4 linked regions of the Homo sapiens genome follow. The protein of the gene in region 4 purifies or fractionates together with the protein of the main gene of each other region. This does not show direct contact. Each region holds a gene or a part of one and is shown on either strand. Other genes may lie near its edges. The genes, in order: MYO1F, MYO18A, NUDT5 and PYCR2.

Region 1 (7,086 bases), on a different chromosome or scaffold from region 4:
GCAGTGGCACGATCTCAGCTCACTGCAACCTCCACCTCCTGGGTTCAAGCGATTCTCCTGCCTCAGCCTCTTGAGTAGCTGGGATTACAGGCGCCTGGCTGATTTTTGTATTTTTAGTAGAGACAAGGTTTTACCGCGTTGGGCACGCTCATCTCGAACTCCCAACCTCAGGTGATCCTCCCACCTCGGCCTCGCAAAGTGCTGGGATTATAGGCGTGAGCCACCGCACCCATCCTGGGTCCATTTTATAGAAGAGAAAACTACAGCACAGAGAGGTTAAGTGTCCTCTTCAAGGACACACAGCAGTGCAGAGAGGACCTTGGGGAGGACCCACGAAGCTGTCCTTCCCCAGGCTGGTCTGTATCAGAGATCGCCGGGGTTGCTGCTGAGGTCAGATGAGGATGGGTTGGGGAGAAGATGGGTCATGTCTACAATTTCCCCTTTGGGGGCCAGTGCAGGCTTCAGCCTGCCAGGCCACTCAGGCTGAACTAAGACCCCAGGCCACTTCCCCTCACTGGGGTCAGCTGTGTCTGGCTAGGCCCATCAGCCCTCCTGGCTCTCCCGGCTCTGACGACTTGGTTCCTCTTCCTGCCCTTCCCCTCTTTCCTCATCTGGCAGAGTGGCCCTCTTCTCTGACCATTCTCTCCCTCTCTATCCTGCCCCAGGCACTAGAGGCCCTCAGACACTCCATGCTCCAGCCACCTGTAAAATCACAGGCTGGGCCGGGCACGGTGGCTCACACCTGTGATCCCAGCACTTTGGGAGGCCGAGGTGGGTGGATCACGAGGTCAGGAGATCGAGACTATCCTGGCTAACACGGTGAAACCCCGTCTCTACTAAAACTACAAAAAATTAGCCAGGTGCGGTGGCGGGCGCCCGTAGTCCCAGCTCCTCGGGAGGCTGAGGCAGGAGAATGGCGTGAACCTGGGAGGCGGAGCTTGCAGTGAGCTGAGATGGTGCCACTGCAGTCCGGCCTGGGTGAAAGAGTGAGACTCCGTCTCAAAAAAAAAAAAAAAAAAAAAAATTAATCACAGGCTGTTTGCATCGAAGGGAGAGAGGGTTTTGCTCAAGTGAATATCGTGTGGGGAGGATAGTCGAGAATTTTGGCATGTGATGGATTGGGGTCAAAGCCTGGCTTGACAGTTGACTGACTGTGTGACTCTGGGGAGGTCACTTCTCTTCTCCAAGCCTCAGTTTCTCCTCTTTGCAAGTGGATTTGGCCGCGCATGGTGGCTCACGCCTGTAATCCCAGCACTTTTGGAGGCGAGGCAGGCAGATCACTTGAGGTCAGGAGTTCAAGACCAGCCTGGCCAACATGGTGAAACCTCATCTCTACTAAAAATACAAAAATTAGCCCGGCGTGGTGGCGGGTGTCTGTAGTCTTAGCTATCCGGGAGGCTGAGGCAGGGGAATTGCTTGAACCTAGGAGGTGGAGGTTGCAGTGAGCCAAGATTACGTCATTGCACTCCAGCCTGGGCAACAGAGCGAGACTCCATCTCAACAACAACAAATAACCAAATGGATTCCATAATGACCCTTGTGTGGGGTCTCTGAAACAAGTACAGGAGCGAACAAAGAGAAAAAATGCGCCGAGATGCCTCAGGAAATGTCATCTGTGACCTTGAGAGGATTTAAGGCATCAGTGTTGGACAGAAAGCCTGGTCAATACATACTTGTTGAATGAATGAATGAATGAATGAAGTCCTATTGGGATGAGACTGCCCCCTGCCCTGTCTCCCAGATATCTCTCTCATTCTGTGGCCTCCAAGTCTCCATGGGTCAAGTCAAAACTGTTTGTTTGTAAGTCTCTTCCTTGGGGGTGGGGATGCAACGAAGAGCTTGTGGTCACAGTTGACCACAAGCTGAATATGACTCAACCTGCTGGAGCTCTTGTGAAAGGCAGTCAGGGGCTTGAGGTGGGTGGGGTAGGAAGGACGGGTAGCTTCTTCCTTCAGCTCTTCAGAGAGGTCTCTCTACCCCAAGGCTGAAGGCAGAACTAGGGCAGGCGGGGACAACCTTCCTGGTATCACACCAGGGAGGGGCTGTTTGTGGTGAAGGTGATGGTGCCTATGGGGCTGGGGGATGTGTGCCATGGAGGGAACACACTTCCTGGGCCCCTACTGTGCATGGAGGTAGGTGGAGACCAGGCTTAGGTGGACCAGGCCCAGAACCTGCCCTTGGGGGGCTCGGTGTTCCCCAAGTGGTGTCTCAGTTGCCCAGAGGAGACCATGGCTGGAAAGTACTGTGGAGAGGTGAGAGGGCTTCCTGTAGAAGGCACGTCTTGCAACATGAACTTTCCAGGCAGCATCAGTGGTGGCTGCAAGAGACATCAGCCAGAGAGGCCTTGGGTGTGTGGTGGACACCAGGATTCTAGTCTGTTTGGAATGGAGGGTCATGGTCCTGGAGGGATAGACAGCCCAGGCCATGTGGGGTCAGCACATAGTCCTGCTGGCCTCTCATTGCTTAGGAGGACAGGAGGCTGTGGTCAAGGTGCCTGTTATTTTTTTTGGACAGAGTCTTGTTCTGTTGCCCAGGTTGGAAGGCAGTGGTTTGATATCACTGCAGCCTTGACCTCCCAGGCTCAAGCGAATCCTCCTGCCTCAGCCTCCTGAGTAGCTGGGACCACAGGTGCATACTACCACGCCTGGCTAATACATTTTTTTTTTTTTGAGATGGAGTCTTGCTCTGTTGTTCAGGCTGGAGTGCAGCGGCATGATCTAGGCTTACTGCAACCTCTGCCTCCCAGGTTCAAGTGATTCTCCTGCCTCAGCCTCCCAAGTAGCTGGGATTACAGGCGTGCACAACGCCTGGCTAATTTTTGTATTTTTAGTAGAGACCAGGTTTCATCATGTTGGCCAGGCTGGTCTCGAACTCCTGACCTCAGGCAATCCACTCATCTCGGCCTCCCAAAGTGCTGGGATTATAGGCGTGAGCCACTGCACCCAGCCACATTTTTTTTTTTATTTGAGATGGAGTCTCGCTCTTGTTGCTCAGTCTGTGAGTGCAGTGGCATGACCTTGGCTCAACCTCTGCCTCCCAGGTTCAAGCAATTCTCCTGCCTTAGCCTCCTGAGTAGCTGGGATTACAGGTGCACGCCACCACACCTGGCTAATTTTTGTGTTTTTAGTAGAGACAGGGTTTCACCACGTTGGCCAGGCTGGTCTTGAACTCCTGACCCCAAGTGATCTGCCCGCCTTGACCTCCCAAAGTGCTGGAATGACGGGCACTGGGATGAGCCACCGCACCCAACCACATTTTTTTTTTTTTAAATAGAGACAAAGTCTAACTATGTTGCTTAGGCTGGTCTCAAACTCCTGGACTGCTGATCCTCTTGCCTTGGCCTCCCAAAGCGCTGGAATTACAGGTGCAAGCCGCTGTGCCCGGCCAAGATGGCTGTTAATAGTGTGGCCTTGGGAGTCACTGAGTCAAAATCCTCTTTCATTTTAGATTGGGCAGCTCACCTAACCTCTCTGCCTCAGTTTCCTCATTCGGAAAATGGGAACATCGAGGGGTGCAAATCTCACAGGCTGCTCTGCAGATTCAACGAAGCAAAGGTTGTCCAGTGTAAATGCTAGCGTTCCTCACTGTCCCCATCAATGGTGGCCATGAGCTGGCCAGGAGGAAGGGCTGGAGGAGGGAGCTTTTGCAACTCACCCCATGGGCTCCAGGCTGTCTGCTTTTTCTGGGCGTGATGAGCAAGAGCTCTAGATTGAAGACAGCAAACAAACAGCCACTTCCTTCCTCACCCAGGTCCTGCGAGCTGTGGTTGCCGGGAGGAGAGCTAAGCCTCCGTAGCTGCTTCTGGAGCCAGCTCTCAGCTCCCAGACCCTGCCCTGGTGCCTGAGGGTGGCCCTGGAGCCTTGCCCCCAGCTCAGTGGGGCTCTGGGGCCACACCCTGCGTCCATGCACTGTGCAAACAACATTCTCACCTCCAAAGGCTCCATCCCTCAGGGGAGCAGGGGGACTGGACTCTGTTTCTTTTCTTTTCTCTCTCTCTCTCTTTTTTTTTTTTAGATGGAATCTCACTCTGTTGCCCAGGCTGGAGTGCAGTGGCATGATCTCGGCTCACTGCAACCTCCACCTCCTGGGTTCAAGCGATTCTCCTGCCTCAGCCTCCCGAGTAGCTGGGACTACAGGCGCCCGCCACCGCGCCCGGCTAATTTTTTTTTTGTATTTTTGTATTTTTATTGTTTTGAGACGGAGTCTTGCTCTCTCACCCAGGCTGGAGTGCAGTGGCGCCATCTCGGCTCACTGCAAGCTCTGCCTCCCGAGTTCACGCCATTCTTCTGCCTCAGCCTCCCAAGTAGCTGGGACTACAGGCACCCGCCACCACGCCTGGGTAATTTTTTGTATTTTTAGTAGAGACGGGGTTTCACCATGTTAGCCAGGATGGTCTCGATCTCCTGACCTCATGATCTGCCCGCCTCGGCCTCCCAAAGTGCTGGGATTATAGGTGTAAGCCACCGCGCCCAGCCCCTGTATTTTTAGAGACGGGGTTTCACTGTGTTAGCCAGGATGGTCTCGATCTCCTGACTTCGTGATCCGCACGCCTCGGCCTCCTAAAGTATTGGGATTACAGGCGTAAGCCACCGCGCCTGGCCTTTATACGTGGGGACCCTTGTCTTTCTGGAGCTGGGCTCTTTGTCTCGTCGCTGGAGATTGCTGACAGTCGGTGGCTACCGTCTCAAACATCTCCACGCAGAAGCTGGAGCTGGGGAACCCTGGTCTTGTCCCTCCTGCTTTTTGGGGAAGATCCTCTGGGATGTGGTCCCCAACCCCCAAGACAGAAACCTGCCTGTCTCTGATTCATTGTTACGTTCACTCTTTGCATCCAATCAATTATGGGCATTTTTTTTTCCCCTCTGAGACAGAGTCTCGCTCTGTTGCCCAAGCTGGAGTGTAGTGGTGCGATCTCAGCTCACTGCAACCTCTGCCTCTCGGGTTCAAGCGATTCTGCTGCCTCAGCCTCCTGAGTAGCTGGGATTACAGGCACATGCCACCCCGCTTGGCTAATTTTTGTATTTTTAGTAGAGATGGGGTTTCACCATGGTGGCCAGACTGGTCTCGAACACCTGACCTCAAGTGATCCACCTGCCTCGGCCTCCTAAAGTGCTGGGATTACAGGTGTGAGCCACTGTGCCCGTGCCCAGTTAGTGGTCTTAACTGATTCTTTCTCCTAAATTCCTTTTGACTCCCAGCCTTTCCTGTCCATCCTCATGGCCACTGATTCTGGACCCAGCAGCCACTTCACTGGTCTCCCTGCTTTGTGGCTGTATCTTATTTATTTGTTTAGAAACAGAGTCTGTCTCTGTTGCTCAGGCTGGAGTGCAGTGGGGCCATCACAGCTCACTGCAGCCTGGAACTCCTGGGCTCAAGTGATCTTCCCACCTCAGCTTCCCAATTAGCTGGTACTACAGGTCCATGCCACCATGCCTGGCTAACTTTTAAATGCTTTGTAGAGATGGGGTATTGCCATGTCTCCCAGGCTGGTCTCGAACATCTGGCCTCAAGTGATCCTCCCACCTCCGTCTTCCAAACTGTTGGGATTACAGGCATGAGCCATTGTTCCTGGCCCTGTGACTGTACCTTAGAAACAATCACTATTGGCCAGGTGTGGTGGCTCACGCCTATAATCCCAGCACTTTGGGAGGCTGAGGCGGGCAGATCACGAGGTCAGGAGATCGAGACCATCCTTGCTAACACGGTGAAACCCCATCTCTACTAAAAAAATAGAAAAAAATTAGCCAGGCATGGTGGCGGGCGCCTGTAGTCCCAGCTACTCGGGAGGCTGAGGCAGGAGAATGGCATGAACCTAGGAGGTGGGGCTTGCAGTGAGCCAAGATCATGCCACTGCACTCCATCCTGGGTGACAGAGCGAGACTCTGTCTCAAAAAAAAAAGAAGAGACAATCACTATTATCCTCACATGACCACCATCACCAACCAAAGGCAACCAGTGAACGTCTTCACTCTCTCTCCTACCCTTCTCAAAGACAAACAGAAACTGCTGATAACTCCAATACCATCATGACTAGCCAATGTCAGACAGGTCCCATGAGCAATTCCAGCATCAGCCTTCCTTACATTCTCCCACGATCACCACCACCACCACCACCACGCTATAATAACCAACCACCATCTAGTCATCGGCCAGGCACAGTGGCTCACACCTGTAATCTCACACTTTGGGAGGCCAAAGCGGGTGGATCACTTGAGGTTAGGAGTTGGAGACCAGCCTGGCCAACATGGCGAAACCCCGTCTCCACTAAAAGCACAAAAATTAGCTGGGTGTGGTGGCAGGTGCTTGTAATCTCAGCTACTTGGGAGGCTGAGGCACGAGAATTGCTTGAAGCCAGGAGGTGGAGGTTGCAGTGAGCCGAGATTGCACCACTGCACTCCAGCCGGGGTGACAGAGCGAGACTCTGTCTCAGAAACAAAACAAAACAAAAAAACAATACTAGCCATCAACAACCACACATAACCAACTACCATTAGCAACCACAGAAAGCAGCAGTCACCAGTCCTATCCTGTTCAAAACCCAACATTGAACCAGCACCACCATTGCTGATCATCATCTTACCAGAAACCAACAATAAACTACCAGCAGCAAATGAACGCTACTACCAACACCTTTCCTCTCCAAATAACAGCAACCACCGATGGTCATCATTCCACTGGTCACCAAGCATCTCCAGAATTTCCAGCTGAAAACAATCCACCACCAACGAACAACATTAAACACCAACCGCCACCACCACCAGCCCACCTGCAAGAGCCATTATCACCACGAACCTGCAACAAGAAACAGCCACAACCACCACCACAACCAATGACACCAACAACCCAGCAATGACCACTCGCAGCAACTCCTCCCCAATTACCACAATCGTCACCTCCGTCCATCCTCATTGCTGAATCCAGAAATGAATGGACATCCCAGCTAATGGCAGCTACCATGGATCAAGTGCATGTTATGTGCTCTGTAAAGCAATGGTCCCCAACATTTTTGGCACCAGAGACCGGTTTAATGGAAGACAATTTTTCCATGGACCATGGAGCGGGGCATTAGATTTTCTTTTCTTTCTT
Region 2 (7,086 bases), on a different chromosome or scaffold from region 4:
CTGCTCAACATGGCGAAACCCCGTCTCTATTAAAAATACAAAAATTAGCCAGGCGTGGTGGTACACGTCTGTTAAGTCCCAGCTACTCGGAGGGTTTAGGCAGGAGAATCGCTTGAACCTCGGGAGGTAGAGGTTGCAGTGAGTTGAGATCATGCCACTGCATTCCAGCTTGGGCGACATAGCAAGACTCTGTCTCCAAAAGACAAGTAACTTCCCTTTTACTATTGTTTCTATCCTCTTCTCTGTTCTATCGTGGGGCAATGGAGGGGGCAGTCTCTGTTCGAGACAGATCCACTTCACACTCTGTCCCATTCATTTTGGGGGAGACTTTTCTCCCTTCTTCCCTTTTGGACTCTTTCTGGATGGCTGACATTATCAGAGCCTCGGCACTTGGGCTGTTTGCTATTTTTTCCCACCCATCTGTCCAAACTACTTTATTCATTCAGGGATTATAACTGGCCACACTACAGAATGAGAAGGTAGAAGGTAGAAGAGGAGGAGGGGTGTCATTTGTTTCTTGCCTTTCTGCATGAGCTGCCTCTTAGCTGTCAATGAAGGAACAAAGCATGGAGTAGGGCATGAAGACAGGGACCGAGCAGGGCAGAGACAGCACTCCCAACCTATTCACATTGCCCTGTGGGCCCGAGCTAGTTCTGCCAAGTTTTGATCAAAAAGTCACCTTTGAAATGGCTAAAATTAAGCTTTTAAAAAATGTTCTAATGAGAAGGGCTTGAATCCAAAAAGAAAGAGAATGAAAGAAAGAAAGAGAGAGAGAGAGGGAGAGAGGGAGGGACGGAAGGAGGAAGAGAAGAGAAGAGAAGAGAATCTCTGTAATTGGTGAGATTTAACAATCAGAGGGACCTCAACATTCCCTTGTGGAGGCTAGGGAGGATGAGGCTTGGAGTCTCTGCCACCCTTGCTAACCTGAATCACAGTCCCTAGGCTCTTCACATAAAAGGTGGGGCTTGTGTCTTCCTTGGCCAATCCCCTCATTCCACTACCTCTGCCTGCCCCAAAATGAGCTGCCTAGGCTCTTTAAGTGGCACTGGTCTGACACTTTGGGGAGCAGGCCAGAGACCAGGGTGATGCCCTCACGGTCCCCATCAGAATCCTGCCTCTGCCCACCACCCCCAGGACCAATCCAGACTTTGCCTGAGCCTGAAGGAACAGGCAGGAAAACTGGCGCAGCCAGGAGGAAAAGGGCCTTTATTTCCATACATCGGGTAAACAGGGGAGAGCACAGCCCAGTGAGTACAAACCAATTGCAGGAGAGAAGGGGGGCGGCAGATGGGAGCAGCACCAGGCACTGCACTTGGGCTCCCAAGTCTGGTGGAGTTCTCAGGGATAACCTTTTTAGGGTGGGGGCTGGGACCTCCAGACCACATGGTGTTGTGTCTGGGATAAGTGTGTGGGGGCAGGGAGGTTGGAAGAATGACACGGGCTCAGGACACAGAGTGAGGACTCATGTCTAATGAGCACCGGCCAAAACTTCCATCTTCAGTTTTTCTGATCACAAGTCCTCAACCCCAAGCCTTCCCTCTCAAGTTGAGTTTATGGTCCAGACCACCTGGACAGAGCAGGAGGGAGGCAGTGCTTGGATCAGCCCTGAACTGCTGTAGTTGGAATGGGTTTACCTTAAATAGGTCATTGCACATAACACGCTGAGACAAAGAGGGTGGGGTGGGGGCTGGAGGTGCGGATGGTCCACACACACACTTGTCTGCGTAGGCTTGCTCAACCCAGCCCAGCAGCACCGGAGAGCCCCTCCGCACCTCATTCTTAAGAACCTGGACCCGGCTCTCCTCACCAGCGTCTCCAGCTGCACAGAGAAAGGACTGCTCTCTGAAGGGTGAAGATGGAGATGACATTCCCGAGTCGTTCTTGGGAGCCCCAGCTACCACTACAGCCCCCTCCCACTCTCAGGGATGCAGCTGTGATGGAGAGGTTGGGTATTTAAATTAAAAAGTAGAAAGACAGCAGGCACCAAGAAGAGAGAGCCCCCACCCCACACGAGAGGGAAGGCACTGCTTCTCCTCCCCCAATCCTCCCCATGGACCCAGCAACCTAGAGTGTCCCAGTAGGCAACCTGTCCACCGTCCCTGAGCAGGGAGCTGAGAGGGAGGTCAACGTGCTGGCTCCATGCAGTGCCAGGCCACCTGCCACTGCCCACGGTGACACAGGGTAGAAGCCAAGAGTCTGGCATTTTGAGACAGAGGAGCAAAAAGTTCTCTTCAGAAACTCCTCTTTCCCCCACCTCTTCCACGTGGAGACATCAGACACCCATAGCCTGGAAAGTGCCCCTGACAGAAGAAGGTCAGGGTGTTTCCCATGCAGATCAGCAGTCGGGTGGGGGAGACCGGTGCCCCACCACTTCCTGGGAGAGGTGCCCAGGCAGCCACAGGCCCTGGGGTGAGAGGGCTGCCAACCACTCCCCTGGGCTATGCGTTAGTCTCCGTCAGCTTGGCCTCTGTGTCGCTGTCACTCAGATAACTGTGGGAGTATCGCGGTCTGGAGGTGTTGTCGAGAGGGTCGTGCTCATCATCTGACCGATCAGGGGCAAGGGACTTCCAGTAGCTGGTGGGGCTGCAGGGACCGAGGAATAAGGTTAGGGACAAATGACACTCCTACCATTAAGCACGCACGCCTTTGGTTCTGGAGGCCCACAAAGCTGCGTCAGAGCACTCCCCAAAAGCCAAACATTGTTAAGTAAAAACCTTCCTTGGCTTACTTAGAAGATACTCAAAATGCTAAGAGGAAGGAGACTCTGGAAGCTTTTAAAGCTCCGAGGAAAGGGATGCTGAGAGCAGTGAGTCTCGGACTCAAGCGTGCATAAGAATCTGATGCAGGTTCCTGGGCCCTTCCTCTTAGAAACCTTGAATCGCTGGCTTTTGGGTACAACCCAGTAATTCTGCATTTTCAGTCCTTCCCCAGAAGGCTCTGAAGCAGGCAGTCCGTGAACCACATTGGCTTGGAGACTGGAGGTCTGGTGAGTACAACTTGTCTAGGGTAGGGGCTCTCTTAGGCGAGTGATTCCTAAAAAGATTCCTTCTGAGGAGGAGGCGCTTTCCCTGTCAAATACTCCCAGATCTGAACCCTTTCCCCTAATGATGGCTCCCTGAGGCCTGTGAGAATTTTCAGCTTTGACCATGCCATCATCTACTAACAAGAAATGGAGGCTCAGGAAGGAGAGGCTGGGAAGACCTGTTTTAGGATGGCCCAAGGGGAAAAGCCCCTTTCTTGGTACAATAACATAACTCAGAGTCTTCATCAGGCCTCTGGCTCTGGAGGCCTCCAGCTATCCCAGATGTGAAGAGGCCTCTTCCCCCTGATGGAGCAGGATCACAGCACTGAACAGGGAAGAGGGGACCTCATCTCACAGCTCCATTCACCTTCTCTTTTCTTTCTCCCAAAGCCTTGGGGCCACCTTTCCCGTACTCCTCCTGCCTCCACTGCCTCCGTCAGTTCAAGTGCACTCTCGTTTCAACACCATTGGAGAAAACACAGCCCAGTGTGGCTCCTCTCCTACTGATGCCCCACACTCGGCGTGGTCCCTGGAGCTGCAGCCCTGCCTCCAGATCCTAGAGTTCCAACTTGGGCAAGCAGGAGTTCCATGTTCCCTGCTGCCTATAATTCTGACTTAAGCTGAAAAGGGACCTTTGTTTACTAGCCCTTTTAAAGTTCTATCCCCAAACCAAAATAGGAGGAGTCAGCGTTCTGCGGCAAGAACCACCTTCTTAGCTTTTCCCAAGGTGGCAGTGAGAGATGCAGAGGGCAAGATTTGGTCACTGAGTACTCCTATGTGTAAGACACGGCCTAGGCATGTGAGATAGGCTATCTTACTCTTCACAATAACCCTATGAAATATTACGAGGAAGCCAGTCCAAAGAGATGAAAGGATCTTCCCCAAGGCCACACAGCCAGTATGTAAACTTGAATCTGGGACTCTTAGACCTCAAAGACTTTGGACGACTTCACCCCGCCACTCGATTGGTTGACCTGAGATTAAAAAAAAAAAAAAAAAAAAAGGACCAAACCTGAATTCTCCTGCTGGCTTGGGCAAGTGCCCAGGGGTTATGTAAAGAAAGGTCGGTCTCTATCCCTGGGGGAAAGGAAGAGGCTGATAGAATACATGTTCAATTATGCAAAATGGTTCAGGAATGGGGCAGTCTGGTTAATAGTTATCGTATTTCTCATGAATGAATTACCATTTTTAAAGGAATCAGGATAGCACAAAACACATTTAACACAAACTAGACTGAACATAAATGAGTCTTACTTTGATAGGCCAAAGGCACTTAGGGACTCTGGGGGGGTTTCTAGGACAAAATTATAAAGCTCACTGATGACTATGCAATATAGAAAAAAATTGGGGTTATTTTAGCTTTGGGGTTGTTTGAATTCTAAATTAGTGGGAGCCTGGTTTGGTTCTCATTCTTTACATAGAATTTCTGGGCACTCAGGGCTAGGATCTGCCGTTAGGCTAAGGAGTGCCTGGCTTTGTGGAAAGACAGTGGGGTTACTTTGTGAGCAGAGCGGGGCGAGGCAGATGCCAGGGCTGGAATCCAGATGCAAATGAGGTGCTGCTGGCGAGCTCCAAGGCACTGTAAATTGCTGAATCAGGGCCCCTCTGGTCCTTTCCATTGCCTCACCTCTTTTTAAGGTGGGGGCTCCAGTCCCCAAGCCCACATTCCTGTACCTGCTAGGCAGACACCTGGATAAATGACAGCCGTGTTTCCATACTGTTTCATCAAGACGCTGGGCAGTGGCAGGAGCTGCCGGGGAGGTGGTAAACTCCATGTCTCTCTCTGCCTTGGGCTGCGGACCCACGAGATTGCCCTTGCCCGTAGCTTGGGTGATCTTTAGCCATTCTTAGTGGCTTCCACTGCTCCAGCCATCAGGGAGTCAACAGCAGGCCGCTGCCCTCCTCTCCAGGGCAAGAGTCAGAGCTGGCAATTTGAACATTTTAACCAAATTGTTTAAAAAAGCCTTCCTCCTCACAAGCCAGCGTCTCCTGCTCAGCACTGTCACAAACAATTTGGTACATAAGCTAATTCCTGCCAGGCAAGCCCAGGGCGGCAGCTCCCCTCCCCTTGACTTTGCTATGGAAGCTGCGTTCCTGTTGCAAATTCTTGCTGGTCCTCATCACCAGATGGGAAGCTAAGTGACTGCTCCATCCCATGCCCCCACCCCAAAGCCAGTTGATGCTGAGCACCACTGAGGTCCTCCCTCCCCTGGCCTTCTCCCTCTGGCTCCGTGTTGGTTGGCTAGGTTCTGGCTTGATGGCCACTCTACCAACAGTGAATCCAATCCTCCTTGGAGCGGGTGGTATATATGGCGTCAGGACTACTCCAGCTTTCCTGGTGGAAAAGAGGAACTGCGCTGGTGGCTGGTGGAAGAAACAGGCTTTTGGTCTTTTTGTTATTGCTGGTTGTGGGGTCAAGGGTGATGGTGGGCTGAGGGCATTGGGGTCTGAAATCTGCCAGTTGCCAGTCAGTGTGGGATGGCCCAGCTTTAGGCCCATGTCCATCTGGGGGTAGAGGCGCAGTGTGCAACAAGGCCTGGCCCTCTTTGCTTTCCAAACCCCTCTCCCAGGTCCATCAGCTGACTTCCTGCCCTAGGGGTGTGGGGCACTTAGCAGGGCTGCTAAGAGGAAGGCTGAGATGCCTGATCAAATATTGACTCATATATATATATATTTTTTGAGATGGAGTCTCGCTCTGTAGCCCAGGCTGGAGTGCAGTGGTGCGATCTCGGTTCATTGCAACCTCCGAGCCTCCCGGGTTCAAGCGATTCTCCTGCCTCTGCCTCCCAAGTAGCTGGGACTATAGGCATGCGCCACCACGCCCAGCTAATTTTTGTATTTTTAGTAGAGACGGGGTTTCACCATCTTGGCCAGGCTGGTCTCAACTCCTAACCTCAGGTGATCTGTCTGCCTCAGCCTCCCAAAGTGCTGGGATTACAGGTGTGAATAACCATGCTCGGCTGACTCTTGTCTTACTATGGAGCCAACACTGGTTCCTTGGTACAACAGAGATGCTTCCTGTTCCTCCCAGAGCACCCAGTAACCATCTGCTGCATGGGGGAAGTGACAGAGCAGGGCTGAGCCATTCCACTTGCTCCATTCCTTAAAAGGTCTTACATCAGTCCGTTTGGTATAATCCATTCAAAGTCAGCCTAGGTGTCCAGCCGCTCCACAGCACAAGCATGCGACAGGTGTGTTAGTTCATGCATCTGGGAGACAAATGTCTGTGCCCCAGGGGCTGCACTCGGGGGACATACCTCCTGGGAAGCAGCAAGCTTGCCCTGGGAGGGCAGCATGCCAAAAACAGCTTCACATAAGCAGGGTGATCTAAAATGTCACCACGCACCAGAGAAACTGGCAACAATGGGATTCCAATGAGTCAGGCTCTGCCCTTCTTCCATGGTGGGGGTGTGGGCATAAAGGGCCTAACTGCTAGATCTCCCTCCCCACAGGGAGAAGAGCTGGGGGAGGCAGGAGAGCCAGGGGGAGGCTGTCACTCAGCAGTTGCTAATTTCTATTCATTAGAACTTTACAAGATGAGTAGAACCAAGGTGACGCCCATGTGTGGGCCTTTGGTGGGAGGGCTGGGGAGGGAGTCAGGCATCTCCTGGGTCTGCTGTAGGGTGTGGCGCTGTGTGGGCTGTAGCCCTGGGAGCCTTGTACTCCTAGGCTTGAGATCTATGCCAGAGAGGAAGGTAGCTTTGTGGGGGCAGGGTAGGGGAGGGAGAGCTAAGCAAAAGGCCCAATAATAGCTTAGGGCCACTGATGTGCACCAACCACAGCTGGGGTATAGCTTGGGACCTTTCCTGGCCCCAGCCTGTTGGGGCCATGAATGAAAGCTCCTGAATGGGTGCTGCTGGGCACACACAGTAAACATGTTGCCCATGTGCTCTGCACTGGCTGCCTGGAGGAGTGGGTAAGGGCAAGAGTGCTGGAGTTGGGCAGACCCCATTCAGACCCTGGCAACAACCCTTCCCAGCTGTGCGTGACCACATGGCAAGTGACTTAACCTCTCCAAGCCTCAGCTTCATCTTCTATGAAACAGAGCTAATCAGACTTTGTTA
Region 3 (7,409 bases), on a different chromosome or scaffold from region 4:
TGTGCCATTTATGGTAAAAAATTTGGGTACCCACAATTGAATTCACTTATGGGTTTTTTTTTCATTCTCTTCAGGTGTGGCAGTTGGGTGGGCAGGGAGTAATTAACGTTTACTGAAATTATGCTACTTGGTGATCTCCAGGAATCATTTAGCAGGTGGTTTAAAATCCTCACATTTAATGCTGGTTGAGCAAGAGTGAACTGACTGTAATGACCCTTGGGAAGGTGAATTGGTTACAGACGTATAGTAACGACACTGTAAAGATAGTCCAGGCAGGAGATGACAGGTCTGGAGTAGAGTGGTAGCCGTGGCAAAGTGACATTTAATTTCCACGAAGACAGTTTTAAGGGAGACTGGGACATCGGAAGAAAAAAGGGGTGATGCAGAGCTCAAATCTGTACACGCTTGTTTGAGGTGATAGCAGACATCCAGATGAAGAAAACCAGCAGACAGGTGAAAATCTTAATCTAGGATGATTAGTCATGCTATGGATTCAGAGAAAGAAATGTGTTTTTTCATTACTTCATTAGGAATTGCACAATAAATCTCCTCCCCCATAATCACATGACTACTGACTTTTCAGCATGCAGGAGAAAAAGCAAATATTTCCACTGTTGAAAGGTTTTATTGGAGAAACTTGATGAATACAATGACTTCATGGCTTAGTGAAGACAACCACGGTGGTTAAAATACAGTGAACCCTCATTTAGCTGTATCCATTCAAAGTATTTGAGCATCTCCTATGTATAATGTCAATTTATTTGATGCTGGTTAAATGTGTAACAAGTTACTTAAAACCAACTGTAATACCAAAAAGTCATTGAACACACTTCTAAAGTATACTGCCTGAATAAAAGGTATCTATAAAAATTCCTTCCCTGTAGTATCTATATATTTAAGCTTACAAACTTAGCTGCTTTTCTACACACAACTGCAATTCTATATTAAAGCTTTGCAACTGCCTTAATCTCTACACTCTTTTTTTTTTTTTTCCCGAGACGGAAAAAAAAGAGTCTCGCTCTGTTGCCAGGCTGGAGTGCAGTGGCGCGATCTCGGCTCATCGCAACCTCCGCCTCCCGGATTCAAGCGATTCTCCTGCCTCAGCCTCCCGAGTAGCTGGGACTACAGGCATGCGCCAACACGCCCGGCTAATTTTTGATATTTTAGTAGGGACGGGGTTTCGCCATGTTGGACAGGCTGGTCAAACTCCTGACCTCAGGTGATGCGCCCGCCTCGGCCTCCCAGAGTGCTGGGATCACAGGCATGAGGCACCGCGCCCGGCCTATGCTCAAATGTTTCTTGGGCTGTTAAAGTACTGCTCCTCGCAGAAGGGCTATGTTCCCGGGATCTATTCTCTTCCGTACATTCATTCCTATCTTCATTAGAAAACATCTGACCTAAATAAATCCCCCATCGATGCTAACATCTCCTTCCGCGCAATTTTTTACTTTCTAAGTCAAATCAAAACAATTATTTGAGCGACTGCTCCTGTCTGCCATTAAGTCTTTCTGGCACCACCCTCCAGACATATATACAATATTGCTTCTTTCCCTCAAATCAGAAAGGACTGCATAGTTCCGGATCAAGGCATAAATGATGAATCATGACTGTCCATCCCCACCAACATACTCTGCAACATTATAATCTATTTACCTCTGCTTTGAAAATGTATTCTTTAAAGCACTGCTTCCAACTAGCCACTTAGCCAGTAACATTTTTGAGAAAAACAAAACACAACCCAAAACAATGTATATATTCCTGGGGGGAAGAGTTTCTAACTCAAAATACGCAGATAATTGTTTATTATTCTAAGGAACACCCTTCTGAAGAGGCCTGCAGTCGGTGGGGCTGTTTCTAATTTAAAACTACTTAGGTGAACCAGGAAGAATGTACATTTAAGGAGATACTTTTAGACGCAGATGCCTCGCGCAAGCCTAAAGCTCGTGTGGTAAGCGACACGACTAGGGGTTAAAAGCGGCTGGTTGGTAGGCCCGGGGCCGTGGCTCACGCCTTGTAAACCCAGCACTTTGGGAGGCTGAGGCGGGCAGATCACCTAAGGTTAGGAGTTCGAGACCAGCCTGGCAAATATGGTGAAACGCCGTCTCTACTAAAAACACAAAAATTAGCCGGCGTAGTGGCGCGCGCGCGCTCTCAGCTACTCGAGAAGCTAAGGCAGGAGAATCACTTAAACCCAGGAGGCGGAGGTTGCAGTGAGCCAAGATTGCGCCACTGCACTCCAATCTGGGCACAGAGTGAGACTCCGTCTCAAATAAATAAATAAAAGCAGCTAGTTACTTCTCATTCTTTTAACGAAACAAACAAAACTGAACTTTGCTGGGTGACAGGAGTGAAGCAAAGGAAAAAACGATAGTACAAGTTCGATTCGAATTCTTCCAGTCTTATGATTCGATCATCGCAGGAATACTGATAAAAATCTGCGTTTTTTCCAGGTTGACAACTTTTGCGAGGCCAGACTAAACGAATTCAGCGCTCCAAGGAGACTCCTCTTTCCTCTGCTTTCTCACATTTACCTCTCGCCTTTTACCTCCCAAAGTCGAACCCTCCAGGATCGTACAGGCGGTATTCCCTCTACCAAGCATTCTACTCCTCTGCAGATGCTGCAATCTTTACACTGGAACTAACACTTAGCTGTGGTGTTCCCCGCTTTCTTTACTCGGAGTAGCCCAGGCTCTTCCTCTCCAATCCACAATTTCCCTCCAATCCCCAGTTTCCCTCTTGGGCGCCTGGACGCGTGCCCAGCCGCAGCCTGGGAGACACCGCGCGGCTGCACGCACCATGCAGATGTGGTCCCTTTCCCCTTCTTCTTCTCCTCCCCAAAGAGGTTTTGTGCTGTGACTGGCTTGCCCCGGTTACTTACTCCAAGGTGTAGGGGTGAAGAACGGAAGAGGACGAAATAACTAGCTGGAGGCAGCAGTGTCAGCCGATGCCGGTGCCACGGCTCGAAACACCGGCGCCTCTCGCGGTGCTAAAAGGATGGGCGCGCACCCTCCTTCCGGCATCCGTAGAACCCCCGCCTTTGACCTAGCTTCAGGAGATTACTTTCCGGGTCAGCGTGCGTTTAGGGCGAAGACGGAGTTGTAAACTTCTTAAAATTCCTCTCTCGACACTTCGGTAATTCCTCTTTCGAGACTAAAGCTCTTTTTGTATGCGTGTGTGTCAAGCGTATGCCCCGGGATTCTCCTCCGCTTCCTTTTCTCGGTCTTCCTTCTTGCTTTAGGGACCGGAAGAGTCCTTGAACCAAAATAGCTCGGCGGGCACTTCCGGGGCCGGCGCCCAGAGTTCCGGGAGGGTGCAGGCAGGAGAGGGAAAGGCAGCAGCGGCGGCAGCTGGAGGATGAAGAAGGAGCATGTGCTTCACTGCCAGTTCTCCGCGTGGTACCCGTTCTTCCGAGGCGTTACCATCAAGAGGTGAGATGGGAGGGGGTTCGCCCGGTCGACCGGCAAAAGGGAACTGCGACTTCTGAGCGAATCTTACTGCTATCCAAAAAAATGCAGGCCTTCTAGCGACTGCATGGGAGGGAGTGTGTCGAGAGGGAAGTACATCAGCAATTGTCTGCGTCCTGTTGCGAGCCAGCGAGTGTGCTGGCTAGGAGGGTCAGTTGTGGTTTTCAGTGAGGGTCGGAGGCGGGAGGAATAGTGGATTAACCTAGTTTAGGCTTGGGAGTTCACCACCACTACTTTTAGAATGGCCCCAGGCGCAAGGTGATCACTGCCTAAGTGCACTCGGAGAATTAATTGCTTTTCGCCATCACCCCAGAGGATGGAGATTGGGAAGGTGAAAGGATACGTAATTACAGTTAGATACGAGAACAAGTTCACAGATATGTCGTACAGCATGGAGGCTATAGTTAATGACGATATACGTATTCTTGAAAAACGGAGAGTGGATGTTAGTGTTCTCACCACAAAAATAACTATGTTAGGCAATGCATTTGTTAGCTAAATTTATTCCACAGTGTATATATACTTAAAAACATCAGGTAGGCGGCAAGTATTAATATATACAATTTCATCTCTCAGTTTTTTTAAAGGCGTTGATAGAAAATCTGGGCTTTGCACTTAACTGATTTTCTGAGCCAACATTTCAGTAATTGCTGATTCATTATATGATGGTTTCATTCAATAAAGATCGGATATGTACTTGAAAATGTGTAACTGGCTTAGAATGGTTAAAATGTATAAGAAAAGTTTCAAGTTCTTAAATAGTATTGGAATGTGTGGTAGAACCTTAGATTCATTGTACTTAACAATTTCGCTTGTTAGCTTTGTAAGAGTAAAATACTTAGGAAGGCTTATTTGTAATCAGCAAATAGACATATTAAGAAAGAAAATTGAGTGGTTTATGAATAGAATTTAAAATTTTAAAGAGACTTTTAAGTTGCAAAGTTTCGCTTGAAATTGTTTAAAATTTAGTAGATTTTCAAACGTAATAAGATTTGTTAGAAGAAATTAAAAGCCTGAAGAACTAGATTTTTTTTTTTTGAGACAGAGTTTTGTTCTGTCGCCCAAGCTGGAGTGCAGTGGCAGCGATCTTGGCTCACTGCAAGCTTCCCTTCCCGAGTTCACGCCATTCTCCTGCCTCAGCTTCCTGAGTAGCTGGGACTACAGGCGCCCGCCACCACCCCCGGCTAATTTTTTGTATTTTTAGTAGAGGCGGGGTTTTCACCGTGTTAGCCAGGATGGTCTCGATTGCCTGACCTCGTGATCCGCCCGCCTCGGCCTCCCAAAGTGCTGGGATTACAGGTGTGAGCCACCGCGCCCGGCCAGAACTAGATTTTTGAATGTGAAATTGTACCTTTGATAAATCAAATATTTATTTTTAAAACCGAAGTTTTTGCTCTGTCGCCCAAGCTGGAGTGCAGTGGCAGTGATCTTTTATTTATTTAAAAATAAATAAAAATACTTATTTTTAAAACCGAAGTAGCCCATGAATACTCTTTTTTGTGCAAAAAAACCATTTGTAATGTGCCAAAAAAAACTTCTTCCATAAATAAATGAGACATGTTATAAGTCATTGATGTTCTGTTAACTTCGGGAAAGCAGGCTGTAATCTTTTCCACTTTTTGAAGATGTATATGCCTCAAAATCAAAATAATACCAGCACTCTTAGGGATCTGTGGTAGGGCTTTTTGATAATTTATTATTTCAAGGTAAAAAACAAATTATCCCATAAGTTTTTAAGAGACTTCAGGTATGGCTTTGCCATCCTTAATTATGATTACCTGAAACAAATTAAGCTAAAGCATGCCTAGTTTAAGCAGCTTTATATCTCTGGTGATCAGTTGAATAGAAAGCCAGCAAGACACATCCAAAAGTATCATGAATTCTTAGCGGTAGGTGCTCACTGCCAACCCAAGAATGGTTTCCAGATCTTGACTCTACTTCTGCCCTCTATCTTTAGAAGGTGACCAAATGCTAGTCATCTTCTAGTTGGGTTTGCTGCATTTCCTGTGTTGCAGCAAATATCTGCTGGTCTCTGATTTCTTAAAGACACATAAATGTTGTGCTCACTCAGAATCCTTTTGAGCTTGTTGCTTTCATACTGTGATTTCCATCTGGTGGTTTGGATTTGGCTGGTTTTTGTTTACTACAAAGACCATTGTGGCAATAAGATGAACCGCAGTAATCTTATTATTCTGATTTCTTGTCTACTGCTACCAAATGTACATCATTAACATTTTCTACTTTATATTAAAAGAAAGACAATTCCAAAATTAATCAAGTGTAGAGATTTTTCTCTCTGCTTATAGTTGGTCTTTTAAAATGATGCCTTTTTTGGTGTTTTTTTTTTAGTGTCATTCTTCCACTTCCTCAGAATGTGAAGGATTATTTACTCGATGATGGAACTCTGGTGGTTTCAGGAAGGTAAAGTATTTTAGAAAAAAATTTCTTAAACTTTATCATAAAGAAACACATAAAATGAATGAATTAGCTTAGGCACCATTCTTTCCCTTTAGCTCTTTTTCTCTCCTAGCCAAAATGATGTGCTGATCTTTGTCTCATATTCCTTCTCAATGTTCACTTAATATTTTCAACATTAAGTACTTTTCCCTCTAATAATTACAAGTTGTGAAATTGAGCAGTTCCTTTCATCTCTGTCTTTAGAAAACAGTTATGATGACAACTTTTCCTTCTGACGGTAGCAGGGTGGGGGAAGTACATATTAAAATTCTTTGAGATCCTTCAGTTTTGACGATTAAAAATTCACTGTTGCAAACAGGCTTTATCATCTAATTCCTCAACATTTTCTTCCCCACGATTGAACTACCGTGGCCCCCCCTCCACTTTCTAGAAGCTGTTCAGGTAGTTTCCCTATTTATAGAATAAAGGGAAGAAGTTACTGTGTTTCAGTCTTTTGGATGCAAACTTGAAAACGTTGAAGAATCATAGGATTTAGTGAAGTTCTCATTTTTTAATTCGAGTCTGCTCAGAAGTCACGTTATGAGTGTTCAGCCCTCACCAGCCTTTCTAAAATAGCCTGACAGTAACCCTATGCCCTGACCTCCCTTCATTTTTCTGCATAACACTTACTTCCACCTGACAATTGTTAATTGTTCCATTAGAATGCAGTTTCATGAAAACAGGGACTTGGCCCATTTGTTCACCCCAGCTCATGGAACAGTGCCTGATATAGCAGAAGTGCTTGATAAACATTTGTTGGATGAAGGAACTATAGAAATACAGTAAGAATTGTGTGTTTTCAGTACTACTAACTGGACCCCATATTTTTGCCTGTTGGGTTTTTAGTGTGGTTTTCTGGATTATATTTCTGTTTTTGGTATTCACAGAGCCTCAATAACCTGAAAATTATTAATGTAGCGCCTCATTAACTTTGAATAATTTGAGGCTGAGGAAACAGTAGGAAAGTCAGATAAGTCTCAACTTTAGGATATTTACAGATATAATTTTTTTTGTTTTGTTTTTCTTTTGAGACAGAGTCTCGCTCTGTCACCCAGGCTGGAGTGCAGTGGCGTGATCTCAGCTCACTTCAAGGTCTGCCTCCCGGGTTCACGCTATTCTCCTGCCTCAGCCTCCAAGTAGCTGGGACTACAGGCGCCCACCACCACGCCTGGCTAATTTTTTTTATTTTTAGTAGAGATGGGGTTTTACTGTCTTAGCCAGGATGGTCTTGATCTCCTGACCTCGTGATCTGGCTGCCTCGGCCTCCCAAAGTGCTGGGATTATAGGCCTGAGCCACCGCACTCGGCATTTTTTTTTTTTTTTTTTTTTTTAAAGATGGAGTCTTGCTCTGTCAGCCAGGCTGGAGTGCAGTGGCTCAATCTCAGCTCACTGCAATCTCTGCCTCCCAGGTTCAAGTGATTTTCTTGCTACAGCCTCCCAACTAGCTGGGACAACAGGTGTGCGCCACCACATCCAGCTAATTTTTGT
Region 4 (7,519 bases):
AGCGGAAGCCCCCACTCTCTAGAAAGTGCAGGGCGTGGATGGTGGCTCCCCCAGGGGAGCAGACATTGTCCTTAAGCTGGCATGGATGCTGCTCCGAGTCCAGCAGCATCTTGGCAGCTCCCTATGGGGAAGGGCACATTAGGAGAAAGTTGCTGGTGTGCGTTGGAACAGGCTTCCCATACCCACTGCTCCTGCCCAACTGCTACCCCAGCTTCCCAACCAACTCCCACCTCAGTTCAGTGATGCACAAGAACCCCCATTCTACACCCTGGTCCTGAACATGCGGGGGAAAGATACTGACCAGCAAAGCCTGGGCCCCGAGTTGGATTGCCAGGCGCCGTGGCAAACCCATCTTCACCCCACCATCAGCCAATGCGTCCAGAGCCATGAATGCCTGTGGAGACACTCACTAAGCCCCAGGCCATAGGCACTGAAGGGCCTTTCCTTAGGTCTGCTTTCTGATGACTAGAACTAGCTCCAAGGGTCAGCATCCTGTACCAGCCAGCTGTGCCCAAGAGGTGGGCGCCACCCCCAGTCCAAGCCTGCCTGCCAGCCCATCTTGCTGCCTGGGTTCCTAGAAGGCTGAGCGAGCAAATGAGGGCCTCACATAGGCAGGCCCGCTGCCACTGAGCCCCGTGACGGCATCGATGAGGTCCTCTTCCACCTCAGTGCAGAAGCCCACGCTGCTCATGAGCTGCTCCAGGAGCTGCCCATCCTCCACCAGGGCATGGGTGCCCGTGGCGTACACTGTAGCGCCTTCCTGCACTACCACAGGTGTGTTGGTCATGCAGCGAATCACTTTGGGGGCTGGCTGGAATGCCATCAGCTTCTAGGGTGAGGGAGAGAGCCGAATGAGTGGCCAGGGCACGGCTCCCACCAGCACCCACCCATTAGCTGCCATTCGTGGGTCAACCCTCCCCTCACACAAGGGGCATCAGGGCTGAGATGGGCACCTTCTCCACAGAGCTGATGGTGACACCAGCCGCACAGGAGACCACGATGTGTCTGGCTTGCACGTCGGCCCCAATCTCATCCAGGATGAAGGGGATGATATGTGGCTTCACAGCCAGAAACAGGACGTCGCTGTGCTTCACCGTCTCCTTGTTGCTGCGTGTCAGGTTCACACCCATCTTCTGCAAGAGGAGACTCCCAGCTCACAGTGCTGGAGCAGCCTGGCTATGCCAAGGCCTCCCAGGGAGCAGCTGAACCCCTGCCAAACCGATTCTGCCAGATGCAGCCTGGAATTCTTAGCTTTATGCCCTCAGGGTTCTACCCCTACCCCAAATAATACAGTTTCCCATTGTTGCTACTGGACAAGTAAGCACAGGCTTGGAGCATGACAAGCTTCTCCATGGTAACCAGGAAGTGGCTGCCCTTCTTCCCTGCCAATCTTCTGGTATCTAAGGCACTCCTCTGCCAGGTAAGAAGGCCCTATGGTGAAAGTGGCAGGGCAAAGGGAAATGCTAATACCTGGTCGTTAAAAGCACAGCTGAGTCAGGCCCTATCCTAACCCTGGCCGCTTGTTCGTGGGGACCGCACAGTCTCCATGTGGTCCAGGGCTAGGCTGGAAGCCATCCATCCCTCTATGACTCCAAACTGAGAAGCAGGACCCTCCAGTGCTAGGGACATCAGCCCACCCTAGGCACAGACACTGCCTGTCACCTGCCTCATCAGCCATCCTCTCCCACAGAGCACAGGTTTTGGGTGAAGACTTGGAATATGTTTTTGGAGAACAGAACAACTAACTCACCAGATTCTTCCCAATATGCTCATTCACGACTCAGAATAACAGCAAAGTGGCCACTGTTGTAAATGAGGAAATAGCCTCAAAGTGGCTGAGTACTTTAAGGTCATACAACTCGTCTATTAAGAAAAATGGCTGAGCGCAGTGGCTCACCCCTGTAATCCCAGCACTTTGGGAGGCCAAGGCGGGCAGATCACTTGAGGCCAGGAGTTCGAGACCAGCCTGGCCAACAGTATTCTCTACCAAAAATACAAAAATTAGCTGCGCGTGGTGGATGCCTGTAATTCCAGCTACTCGGGAGGCTGAGGTGGGAGGCTGAGGTGGGAGGCGGAGGTTACAGTGAGCTGAGATCGCGCCACTGCACTCCAGCTTGGGCGACAGAGTAAGACCCTGTCTGAAAAAAAATTTAAAAAATGAGTATTTATTAGGTACCTACTATGTGCCAGGTGCTTTCATCACATAATCACCTCAGTTAATCCTCTACCACTCCAGTGTCTGGATCTGACCCCCAGTTATGTCTCCCTGGGTGTTCCCACCACATTGAGCTGCCCAAGAGAAGGTGGAAAGATTGTCACGTTCCTGGAGTAAAGGTCACCGCCGGCCAAAGACCAGCACTTGGGCGCAGGGGCCGGCCAGACTCACTTCATCTCAGGTCATCCTTTTCCTGGGCCTCCACCCGCTTCCCACTCCGCCCGGCTCCACCTACCCTGAGCGCGGACACCGTGGGCAGGTTCATTTCTGGGGAGCTGGCTATTATCTTGTGAGCCGACAGGATGCCTGCAGAAGACAGAGCTTTTCAACTAGGGGTCGCGGCCCAGCCCGTTACCACGCTTTCCCTGGCTCTAAAACCCAGAGCCGTCCTAACAGTGCCAGTCTCCCTCTCCCCCTCAACCCTCTACGAGGACAGAAGACGCACTTGCTGCTCAACCAGAGTCTCATCTACCCCACCGGACGCAAACTCCCCTTTCATTCGCTCATGCTGGTGGGACGGAGGCCCCCTCGGGCCTCGGGACCGCCCGCGAAGCCGCCTCCCGCCTCCACGCGCTTGCCTGCGGCCGTGAAGCCCCGCGCCAGAGCATAGGCCAGCTGGCCGGCCCCGATGAAGCCCACGCTCATGGTCCGCGGTTCACGCCTCCTGGGAGCCGCACGAACCCCCTCAGCGAGGGACCGGAAGTAACGCTAGGGGAAGGGCGGACAGCGCAGGGGCGAACGGGCGGCGTGCCGAGGACCGGCGAGCTAACAGCAGCTTCTGGGATGGTGCAACCCTATTCTCCCCCGGCGGATATCTCCCGGGCGGCTGATGGCGCCTTAGGCCACGTGGCCCCGCCCCGTCCGGGCGACCAATCAGTGGCCAGGATCTCGGGGCAGGCCAATCCGCGGCCCGAGCCAGGCCGCGTGCCCGCCTCCTCCGCTCGCGACTGGAGGGCGGAACTCCGGGCTGGAGTCCCGGAAGCCCCTGTGGCAGCTTGGCGTGAGCTCCAGGCGCCCGCCGGCCCAGGACGCCCGGCCGCCCCCACCCCCCCCCCCCACCCCAAGGCTGAGGTCGCCGTCCCTAAGCCACCTCGGGCTCAGGGCTGAGGCCTGGCCCAGGCCTGGCTAATATTATTTCTGGCGCTGGCCATCAGATGCCCCTCAAGGCCCACAGGAATTCTCCAGGTTGCCGATTTGCGGGGATGAACGAGGCCCTCCTGGCGTAGGTTCAGACCAGGTGGCGGCGAGGTTCAGACCAGGTGGCGGCGAGGCGGCACCAGGGTGGTCAGCCGCGGCTTATTCACTTGAACTTGAGTGTTTCTCGCGAATTTGTCCAAACTAGATACAAGAAGGACAAGTTCGAGTCTCCGACTCTTCCGCGATCCCGCACCCCCCAGCCCCTTGCTGTCACTTGCCTTTTTTTTTTTGAGACGGAGTTTCACTCTTGTTGCCCAGGATGGAGTGCAGTGGCACGATCTCGGCTCACTGCAATCTCCGCCTCCCGGGTTCAAGCGATTCTCCTGCCTCAGCCTCCCCAGTAGCTGGGATTACAGGCGCCCGCTACCACGACCGGATAATTTTTGTATTTTTAGTAGAGACGGGGTTTCACCATGTTGTTCAGGCTGGTCTTCAACTCCTGACATCAGGTTATCCGCCCGCCTCGGCCTCCCAAAGTGCTGGGATTATAAGCGTGAGCCACCGCGCCCGACCTGTCTCTTGCTTTTAAAAGCTCCACCAATGTGATGTTTCCTTTTCTATCAGTAGTAAATATAAGGGGCCGCAGGGAACAAATGACAGAAGTAGAGAGGAAGAAGGTGGCGTTCCTAGAGGACTCAGAAGAGCTGAGGACCCTTAGTTCCCATGGTCTCTCTGCTAGCTTTTCTAGTCCTTTCCGTGTAATGCACACCCCCACTCCCAGGCAAGGGGCTGCTTTCTGTGAACTTCCCTGAGCAAGTCCCCAGGCCCTCAGTTTGTGCACCCTTTAAAGTGAGGACCAAATATAATATTTACTATTAAGCAAAATAATGCTATGTTTTATTTATTTATTTATTTATTTATTTATTGAGACAGAGTTTCGCTCTTGTTGCCCAGGCTGGAGTGCAATGGCACGATCTCGGCTCACTGCAACCTCCACCTCCCGGGTTCAAGCGATTCTCCTGCTTCAGCCTCCTGAGTAGCTGGGATTACAGGCATGCGCCACCACGCCCGGCTAATTTTTTGTATTTTTAGTAGAGACAGGGTTTCTCCATGTTGGTCAGGCTGATCTTGAACTCCCGACCTGAGGTGATCTGCCTGTCTCAGCCTCCCAAAGTGCTGGGATTACAGGCGTGAGCCACAGCACCTGGCCTCTGTATTTTTTAAATTCGAAAAGTAATACAGACATATTGAAGAAAGTTTGGAGATAAAAGTAAAAATAAAATCATCCACATCATACTTCCCAAAGATAGTTTCTTACAAACATTTTTGGTGTATTTCCTTACACTATCATGTCCTATGCATATCTACTTTCTCCATCATTGGAAATAAATGATGTACATGTAGTTTTGAAATTTCTCTAGTAGACATGAGCATTTTCCAATGTCACTGAAAAGTTATTTAAGACAGTTTTAATGACTACTTATTATATGTATGTACCTTACTGATTTAACCATTCAAAGGTCAATGTTAGGTTTATTGATTTATATAATAGATAACTTACTGAGCCAGGTTCTGGGAGTATAGCTATGAACAAAACAGACAAGTTCCTGTCCTCATAAAACATCAATTTATTATTATTTCTTATTTTTATTTATTTATTTATTTTTGAGACGGAGTCTTTGTTACCCAGGCTGGAGTGAAGTGGCATGATCTCGGCTCACTGCAACCTCCATCTCCCGGGTTCAAGCGATTCTCCTGTCTCAGCCTTCCGAGTACCTGGGATTACAGGCATGTGTCACCACGCCTGGCCAATTTTTGTATTTTTAGTAGAGATGGGGTTTCACCATGTTGGCCAGGCTGGTCTCCAACTCCTGACCTCAGGTGATCCACCCGCCTCAGCCTCCCAAAGTGCTGGGATCACAGACATGAGCCACCACTCCTGGCCTTCAATTTTTTAAATTTTTGTTCATATTATTGTGATAAAATCTTTGCCTGACTCATTATTTTCTTAACATGACTCCCAGAAGTGAGATTTGTAAGGTCCAGTGGTTTGGGGCTTTAAGAGCTCCCATAGCTGCCATGTTGCAGCATAGCCTAATGGTTACCAGCGTAAAGCTCTGAAACCAGAAACCCAGCAGAAACCAAACTGGCTGAAGGAAAAGGGGGGCTTCTGTACAGCGCTTGGGAGAGGCACAGGGGAGCTCACAGACCAGAAGGGGCACCTACAGAGAGCAGGACCTCAGGAATGGAACTAGAACACTGCGCTGCCAGCACTTCCCCTCTTCTCTTTGTCTCATTTCTGTTTGCCTGCATTTGGCCTCCCTTTTGTTGTAGAGGAGTCTTTGTCAGGTAGTGAGGAAGTTGGGGGTTTACCCTCCTTCACAACTTCCTAATGCTGCCTGCTCCTCTGCAGGATACTCACCCTCCCCATAGTCCACCAGGGCACTGCAGGGCCCTTTGCTTTTCCTGGCTGTGGTCTGTTGTGGGGAGCTCTGGATCTGACCTGCAATACAGGAGGTTGTGCTGAAGCTGAATGTGTGTTTTGGAGTGAGGTGTGGGGGACACTTGTGTCTCACTCCTTTCTGACCCCTTACATACACCCATCCCTTACCTGGTTGCCTTGCGTTGATATCTCCCGTTTCCGCTTCCGGGAGCCAGGGTGAAATGGGAGAACTGCAAAAGCCTAAGAAAGGATGGCCGGGTGCGGTGGCTCACACCTGTAATCCCAGAACTTTGGGAGGCTGAGGCGAATGGACCACCTGAGGTCAGGAGTTCGAGACCAGCCTGGCCAACATGGTGAAACCCCATCTCTACTAAAAATACAAAAAATTAGCCGGATGTGGTGGCGGGCACCTATAATCTCAGCTACTCAGGAGGCTGAGACAGGGGAATTGCTTGAACCTGGGAGGTGGAGATTGCAGTGAGCCAAGATTGTGCCACTGCACTCCAGGCTGAGTGACAGTGTGAGACTCTGTCTAAAAAAAAAAAAAAAAAAAAAAAAGAGGCCATGTTGGTGACCCCCAGTGTTGGCTTCATCCCCAGCCAGGACTGGCCACATAAGACACGGAGTAGCAAAAGCACTTGCTCCCCTCAGTTTGGACTTAGGGCAGCAAGTGAGCCACTGACCACAAACTGTTCTTTTTTGTGGTAGTTTTGATCTATTATTTTTTCATCTCCAAAGTTTAAAGTTTATATATACAAAATCTATTATATTTTATTTTTTAAAAATATAAGATGGAAATAAAAAAGAGCAAAAGAGAAAAGAAAACAACAAAAAATAAAAACAAAGTAAGAAAACAAAAAAAACCCAAATATATGTATATATAAAATATATATATAAAATAGAGACGGGGTCTCACTATGTTAGTCTAGGTTGATCTTGAACTCTTGACCTCAAGCAATCCTCCCTCCTTGGCCTCCCAGTGTTAGGATTACAGGCATGAGCCACCGCACCCAGCCTGTTACCTATTTTAAATATAGGTAAGACCATTTTATTCTCTTTTAATGACCTTGCTGACTCTAACGTCCCATTTCCTTGGTGCTGTGGCCACTGCCTTGGTTTCTAAGGCAGTCACATCTGATGCCTGTGGAGTTCCTCTGAACTGAAGTTGAGGAGAGGAGAGGGGAAGCCCTTCGTTCCCATCCAGCCACCCTAAAGGACACCCCAGCCTTGCACTGCCATCCTGCCATGGGACATGCTCAGTCCCTGCTGGCACTTGTCTCCTTGGGCACCCACTATCCTTTTGCTGTCTCGGAGCAGACACGTCCACAAAGCTGCCAGGACTGCCCACCTTCACCCCTCTACTCCCATCCTCTCATCCACCAGTCAGGTTCTGCTGTTTGTACCCTTCCTCCCTCTTCACTCCCCTCTGTCCTGCCTGATGGCCCTCTCCAGCTGTCTCAGACAAAATGGATACTGCTTCACTTCTGTCTACTTCTGCTTCTTCACTATCAGGGCCTCAGGGCCTCCCTCTAAACAGCAGGCCAGTCTCTCCTATCTCTAAACAGCAGGCCAGTCTCTCCTAAGAACTGAGATGACCTAGGAAATGAGAGAGAAGCCTGTGCTGCTCCCAGATAAACAGATGGCAAGTGCCTTGGCCCTCAATCCTCCCTGTCCTAGGAGCCTCTCCAAAGAGGCGCATTTTTGAGTGCATTTTTGCATTCTTT

Evidence for each region.
Region 1: the proteins of PYCR2 (region 4) and MYO1F purify together in Homo sapiens (affinity purification with mass spectrometry; 2 studies listed by BioGRID and IntAct, with this or other methods). This does not show direct contact.
Region 2: the proteins of PYCR2 (region 4) and MYO18A purify together in Homo sapiens (affinity purification with mass spectrometry; 3 studies listed by BioGRID and IntAct, with this or other methods). This does not show direct contact.
Region 3: the proteins of PYCR2 (region 4) and NUDT5 purify together in Homo sapiens (affinity purification with mass spectrometry; 3 studies listed by BioGRID and IntAct, with this or other methods). This does not show direct contact.

The regions. Positions count from the first base shown.
Region 1 is NC_000019.10:8,567,422-8,574,507, forward strand, and holds part of MYO1F (unconventional myosin-If), read right to left. Parts: intron 1-7,086. UniProt on the Homo sapiens protein: Myosins are actin-based motor molecules with ATPase activity. Unconventional myosins serve in intracellular movements. Their highly divergent tails are presumed to bind to membranous compartments, which would be moved relative to actin filaments.
Region 2 is NC_000017.11:29,072,332-29,079,417, forward strand, and holds part of MYO18A (unconventional myosin-XVIIIa), read right to left. Parts: intron 2,584-7,086; coding exon 2,439-2,583; 3' UTR 1-2,438.
Region 3 is NC_000010.11:12,192,892-12,200,300, forward strand, and holds the start of NUDT5 (ADP-sugar pyrophosphatase), read right to left. Parts: upstream 3,001-7,409; 5' UTR 2,879-3,000; intron 1-2,878. Other genes in the region: CDC123 (translation initiation factor eIF2 assembly protein), read left to right, coding at 3,355-3,428, 5,814-5,885. UniProt on the Homo sapiens protein: Enzyme that can either act as an ADP-sugar pyrophosphatase in absence of diphosphate or catalyze the synthesis of ATP in presence of diphosphate.
Region 4 is NC_000001.11:225,921,251-225,928,769, forward strand, and holds the start of PYCR2 (pyrroline-5-carboxylate reductase 2), read right to left. Parts: upstream 3,001-7,519; 5' UTR 2,861-3,000; coding exon 2,794-2,860; intron 2,522-2,793; coding exon 2,451-2,521; intron 1,134-2,450; coding exon 954-1,133; intron 893-953; exon of another isoform or gene 830-892; coding exon 608-829; intron 395-607; coding exon 302-394; intron 122-301; coding exon 1-121. UniProt on the Homo sapiens protein: Oxidoreductase that catalyzes the last step in proline biosynthesis, which corresponds to the reduction of pyrroline-5-carboxylate to L-proline using NAD(P)H. At physiologic concentrations, has higher specific activity in the presence of NADH.